Linked DNA regions of Homo sapiens: region 2 is reported to be linked to region 1. Evidence: microRNA targets listed by miRTarBase, many of them from high-throughput screens and not tested one by one. Region 1 holds a microRNA gene; the other region holds the end of a gene's coding sequence.

Region 1 (3,416 bases):
TCACCCGGTATCCAAGCCATTACAAGATGGGAGAGGGTGAAATGTAAACCCTAGCAGACCAAGCAGTAAAAAGATGAACGGCTTTGGAAATGACAGGGTGAGTGGGAGGAAAAAGTACAGAGAAAGAGGAGTTCCAAAGCAAAGTGACCACAGAATATATATTTCTCAAACTGCTTGAACTCCCAATAAAATGACTTGGAGCAGTGATGGAAGAAAGACTCCATCCCAGAGAACTGGGCAAGCACTCAGCGTCCTACATTTTTCATGCCAAAAATCTCGTTTTTACTATATTATTTCTTCCAAGAAGCCCTACCTTTAACTGAAAAAGGGATACAGAGGACACCTACTTTCTTCTACTTGGGGACTTTACTCGGTTGTGGAACAATGAACTAGACAGACACTACTTAGCTATGATCTTCATCCTTTTTCTTAGTGAGCAATTTTTGTACAGTCTGATTCAGCAAAACAGAAAACAAAACAATTCAAAGGACCCTGCTCTGGCATCCACTATCTCCGCACAGCCGGGCGCGTGGCGCACCGCAAGGCTCTCTGCACTTTCTTCCTCCCCACGCCTCTCCCTGTATTTGTTCTCAGAGCTCTCAAATGGTCAAATGAGCTTGCTCAAAACCAACTTACCACTATATCAAAATCTGTTCCTGTCTTTGTTGGAATAGGAGTTCAATCTTCCCCAGTACTGGCTGTACTTGAAACTTGCTCTCCACAATCAAAATTTGCCCAATTCCTGATTATCAGCCAGAAAGCTGCTTTATTTGCAACTAAAATATACCTTTAACTTTATATGGACAACCTAAAATTCTGGCTCTAGCTGTGTGTGAGGGGGGACATACAGAGGTGAGAACAGGCCTTCTTTGGTCCCACACCCTCCACCCTCCAATATCCTTACCTCTTGGGCAGGTGAGCGAAGGGGTCCTTGGCCTTGGGCTCAGCAGCCAGCGCCTGCTCACATTCATCCATCTCCTCCTCAGGAGCAGGGGCAGCCGCCTTTTTCTCCTCCTTCCGCTCAGCCTGGGGCTTCTGCTTCTCTTCCCGTGAACCCTTCTCTTTCCGTGGTGTGTCCTTTTTAGGTTGGGTCTCTGCAAACTTTTTAGCTGGTGCAGAGGAAGGCAGGAAAGTGAACGAATGTTCTGCCTCTTTCCACACCCCTCCAAAACCACACAGAGCAAGCAAGGTAACAGAGGAAACTGACGAATGGGACAAGTAAGGAACTTAGGCCCCAGACTGCTCATCAGTTCACTGTGTGTCCTCCAGCAACAACACACTCAGCAACAAATACTTTATATCGCAAATCTATATAGTAATACAAATTAGTCAGGGTATGAGTGTACACGAAACTGCACATAATATTAGCTACCACATTGACACCCTACATTCTGCAGGTCCCCATAACCCAAAAGCAAGACAGGAAATCAAGGGGTTGATGCAGAGCAAACCAGACCCTGATCCTGGCCATATGCCTCCCAGTCTCCTCAGACTCACCATCAAACTGGGCCATCTTCTCACACAGTTTCACTTCGCCCAAGACAGCCCGGAACTGGGGCTGGTTAATGCAGGTGAGGAACCAGCGGTTGGTATTGGGAAAGGCCTGGCGGAAAGAAGGCTCTAGAACCTGCCAGGACATAAGGGTGTAAACAAAGTCAGTGGAAAGGCCCTGAAGAGTTCTGTTCACAGCAAGAGTCCTTGCTCTACCTAAGTCCCAGTGCTCACCTTCTTTTCAAACCCTATAGACAATAGCTTCATACAACATCATCCTTCCCTGGATTACTTCCCATTTCTTCATTTTTTTCAATTTTTTTTTTTTTTGAGACAGAGTCTCACTCTATCGCTCAGGCTGGGGTGCAATGGCGTGATCTCAGCTCACTGCAGCCTCCATCTCCTGGGTTCAAGTGATTCTCGTGCCTCAGCCTCCCATGCCTTAGCCTTCTGAGTAGCTGGGACTACAGGTGCCTGCCACCACACCCAGCTAATTTTTGTACTTTTAGTAGAGATGGGGTTTCGCCCTGTTGGCCAGGCTGTTCTCGAACTCTGACCTCAAGTGATCCGCCCACCTCGGCCTCCCAAACTGCTGGGATCTCCGAGGCGGGCGGATCACGAGGTCAGGAGATCGAGACCATCCTGGCTAACACGGTGAACCCCCATCTCTCCTAAAAATAAAAAAATTAGCTGGGCGTGATGGCGGGCAGCTGTAGTCCCAGCTACTCGGGACGCTAAGGCAGGAGAATGGCGTGAACCCGGGAGGCGGAGCTTGCAGTGAGCGGAGATCGCGGCACTGCATTCCAGCCTGGGTGACAGAGTGACTCTGTCTCAAAAAAAAAAAAATTAGCTGGGCGTGGTGGCACGTGCCTGTAGTCCCAGCTACTCCAGAGGCTGAGGCAGGAGACTCACTTAAACCCAGGAGGTGGAGGTTGCAGTGAACCGAGATCACGCCACTGCACTCCAGCTTGGGTGACAGAGTGAGACTCTGTCTCAAAAAAAAAAAAAAAAAAAAAAAATTTTAATAGAGATGGGGTCTCACTATGTTGCCCAGGCTTATCTTGAACTCGCATGCTCAAGCAATCCTCCTGCCCTGGCCTCCTAAAGTGCTGGGATTACCCGTGAGCCACCACACCTGGCCTCCATTTCTTTTTCTAATCTTTTTTTTCAGTGTAGTCCAGTTTAATGGATGGATGCTTGGGTCCATCCTCCATTTAGGAGTAGGAGTAATAATTGTCTTGCTCCTTTACAAAACTATTTCAGATCTACTGTTTCCAATCTTTTAAATTTCAAACGTCGGCCAGGAGCGGTGGCTCACGCCTATAATCCCAGCACTTTGGGAGGCCGAGGCGGGCAGATAACCTGAGGTCAGGAGTTCGAGACCAGCCTGGCAAACATGGTGAAACCCCGCCTCTCCTAAAAATACAAAAATCAGCCAGGCATGGTTGCACATGCCCGTAATCCCAGCTACTCAGGAGGCTGAGGCAAGAGAATCACTTGAACCCGGGAGGCAGAAGTTGCAGTGAGCCGAGATCGCGCCATCGCACTCCAGCCTGGGGGACAAGAGCGAGACTTCGTCTCAAAAAAAAAAAAAGATTGAGACCCACAGAGGGCTATCGAGGACTTTTTTGCCAAATAAAATCTAAACACTATAGGTATTTACTATCTATATTGGCCATACTATACACACACGCACACACACACACACACCCCCCACACCCACCCATCCATCAAACTTCAGAAAGTAAAGAACATTCAAAGAAAATATTCAAACGCATTTAGAATAATGGACAGTCCTGGCTGGGTGTGGTGGCTCACCCCCGCAATCCCAGCACTTGGGAGGCCGAGGCGGGTGGATCACCTGAGGTCCTCAGGAGATCAAGACCAGTCTGACCAACATGGCAAAACCCCATCTCTGCTAAAAA
Region 2 (3,360 bases), not on the chromosome of region 1:
AAGACTTTACTCAAGGAGCAACCAAAAACACTAATCAAAATTCCTCTGCTCATCCACCTCACTTGAATATGGATGACACAGTGAATCAGAGTAATATTGAATTAAAAAATGTTAATCGAAACAATGCAGTAAATCAGGAGAACAGCCGTTCAAGTAGCACTGAAGCCACAAACAATAACCCTGCAAATGGGACGCAGAATAAGCCACGACAACCAAGAGGTGCAGCAGATGCCTGCACCACAGAAAAAAGCAATAAATCCTCTCTTCACCCAAACCGTCATGGCCATTCGTCTTCTGACCCAGTGTATCCTTGTGGAATTTGTACAAACGAGGTGAACGATGATCAGGATGCCATCTTATGTGAGGCCTCTTGTCAGAAATGGTTTCATCGGATCTGTACTGGAATGACTGAAACAGCTTATGGCCTCTTAACTGCAGAAGCATCTGCAGTATGGGGCTGTGATACCTGTATGGCTGACAAAGATGTCCAGTTAATGCGTACTAGAGAAACTTTTGGTCCATCTGCAGTGGGCAGTGATGCTTAATCAAAGGCATTAACTAAAGTGGGTTTATTTTCCTGTGCATTGCAGAAGTTCATTGACACAGGATTTTAATGTTTTACATTATTTTTTTAAATGCATACACAAAAACATTATTTACTTAGTTTTTATTAATCACTTCATCACTAGAGCAAATTTTTTATTGTCTTTGCTTGCTGTCTTAAATGAGAATAATGTATATGGGGGTGCTTTAGAAACATAAATAAATGTTAGTTGTTGTTATTTATCACAAACATAAAAGCCTCTTGAAACTTCAAAATAATATATAACAAATGTAGGCAAGTTTTAACTTTTAAAAGTTAGAATCATTGAAAAACGTGTATTTCAGTGCTGAACTTTGGTTGTACCATATTAAAGATTTAGTTCAAAAAGTTTATCAAGGATCCACTTAACACGTCTTCACAACATAATATATGTAACTGTAACATGGGGGAAAGCATACATTTTTATGGATTAAAAAAATAATAGTATGACACCAGATTCCTCCTCCACTAGGGTCTTTGGAATCAATGAATTTCATATTTCAAGTGAGTTTTCAGGATATCTGTTTGTACAGATACGAGACAGATCTTAGCATATAGTAAATTCTCAGTAAGTATTGTTGATTAACTTGTGGATGGTACCACATGAAATTGCTAATATTAGATCAGTTGAAAATTGACTGCAATTAGTAAAGTTGGTATAACGTACGTTCCCAGTTGTGCTATTTAGAATTATGATAGTATTATGCTCCTACTTTTCTTTGATATTGAGTTGTCTTGTTATTGTTTATTGTTTTCCAGAGAAATACTATAGTATCCACAGAAGAATTGTGAATACTTTTTTATAATTTTGAACTGGGACATATTGCAGATGAGGAAGGTAGAAACATCCATTTGGCCTTAGAGGGCTCTGCTAGTAAAAGAACTACTCAGTGGTGGTTTGAAAAATCTTGTTCTGGGGATCTGAATTTCAAAAATGAACCCTAGGGGAGATCAAAATCCATTTTAAACAAAGATCAATTAAGAGCCAAAGTGAAATCTAACTTGCAAACAACAATTTGAAGCCTTGCAGCAGACTTAAGGAATTCCCGCTCTGACTGGGGAAAAGTATAAAAATGGACCTGAGAGTACCCTCTTGAGGGATGATCAAGAATGGAGACAGTTGGAGTTGTGCTCATTAAGATTCAAAACAGCAGAAATCCATTTTTGGAGCAGATTATAACCTGTGGCCAAAAAAAAAAAATGTGTGCTGTTTGACAGCTAATGGCAATTTATACAATCATTGGAGGCTGGTAAAGCTCCCTAATATGTTGCCACCATTATCATTGCAACCAAAAAAATTCTGAAGATTGTGTGGTGATCTACGAAAGAGATAAATAATTACTGTTATTTAAACCCAAGTGAAACAATGACGGCAGCAGCATATTATCAAGAAATTTAAATTATGCATGAAAATGTGATTTAAAAACAATGTCCTTTGGGTAACACACAAGAACCTACACTTTCACAGACAAGGACTCGACCTCACATGTCACAAGCTACTAAAGCAAAGTTAAGTGACTTGGGCTATGAAATTTTGTCATGTCCATTTTAGTCACTGGACCTTTATTCCATGGACTACTGTCTATCATTTGGAGCTTTTTCTAAGAAACAATGCATTCCCCAATCGAGATGAAGTAACTGGAAGATGTTAACAATTTATACAGCCTAACAAATGATGAATTTTATAAAAGTTAGACCTTTAATATTCTGTTGGAAGAAAACTATTCATGCTCCTGATGCATATTTTGATTGAATAAAACTTATTTTTTTAAATACATTGTTTTAATTTTGACCTACAAAAACAGCAATTTCATATGGTACAAGGTAATACAAGGTTTTCTCCATTTACCCTTGACTAGTTAGAGGTGAGTACAAAATATTTTCAGTAGTTGTAAAATATTTATCTTTACAATTTTAGGAAACAAAATGATATAAACTATACTTCTAGGTACTCCTTTGTGTGAAAACTTTACCAGTTGAAGCAGGTTAAAATGCAGTATTTTGGGCTGACAGGCATTTGATGGTGTTCAGTAGTGTACTTGAAGATCTCATTTTACTTGGATTTTTTATTATACATATTTCTCTAAATGTTTAAGGACCTAGTTATGTTGCTCCTGAAAGTTTAATGAGTGCTGATTTTTAATAAATGATGCACTGTATGCTGTATGCCTAGTTGTAGCATCAGATCATGATTTATTATTACCCTGAATAGAGCTAGATGATAGATATTTTGAGTAGAACTTTCCAGTGTTCTCAGGAGTTAACACTTTACATGGTAGTACTTGAGTTGTGATCATTACTAAAATCAATTATGCAGTTTCTTAAACCCTTTATCTCTTTAAGTTTCAGTAGTTAGCTGTTTTTGTGAAAATGAAATAACTTCTCCCAAGCTAGTCTAAAGGTATGTGTTATGCAATATAATTCATTTTCTATTTCCACATAGTTGTTTTTAAAAACCTACAAACAGGTGAATTTTTATTCAGGTGTTTAGGTCTTCAAAGCACCTTACTTAAATAAGAATCTGTAAATATTCAAAAGAAAAACTCACGGTTCATTCTGATAGTGAATCATAGCCAAACTGTAATCATAGCTGATGAATAGCGTTCATGTGTTTGAATTAATTTTCCTGCTAGTTCTACATTTGTCTCTACATAATGCTAAGTCAAAAGTTATATAGATGCTTTTGGATGGAATAAGTGATGAACTGTAAGAATAGCCAGATGATAATTTGTCTGAAGAAGGCTATTATACAAACTGAAATGGCTTCTTAGGATAAA

What was found. Region 1 holds the annotated microRNA hsa-miR-6747-5p (AGGGGUGUGGAAAGAGGCAGAACA, at 1,142-1,165, opposite strand). A microRNA usually pairs through its seed, bases 2 to 8, with sites in the 3' UTR of a target mRNA and lowers its output. Matches are read on the target gene's strand: a 7mer-m8 pairs with bases 2 to 8, a 7mer-A1 pairs with bases 2 to 7 and ends in A, and an 8mer does both.
Region 2: miRTarBase lists PYGO1 as a target of hsa-miR-6747-5p. The part of its 3' UTR that is shown has no 7-base or 8-base seed match.

Annotation. Positions count from the first base shown.
Region 1 is chr11:62,565,902-62,569,317 of GRCh38, forward strand. It overlaps MIR6747 (microRNA 6747), which reads right to left and starts at 1,170; the gene lies at 1,110-1,170. EEF1G (eukaryotic translation elongation factor 1 gamma) reads right to left here. Exons shown (of 10, transcript NM_001404.5): 6 at 1,498-1,627; 7 at 905-1,109.
Region 2 is chr15:55,543,208-55,546,567 of GRCh38, reverse strand. PYGO1 (pygopus family PHD finger 1) reads left to right here. Exons shown (of 3, transcript NM_001367806.1): 3 at 1-3,360. The coding sequence ends at 545. Among named protein-coding and RNA genes, the nearest start is that of DNAAF4, 37 kb to the right of the region's middle.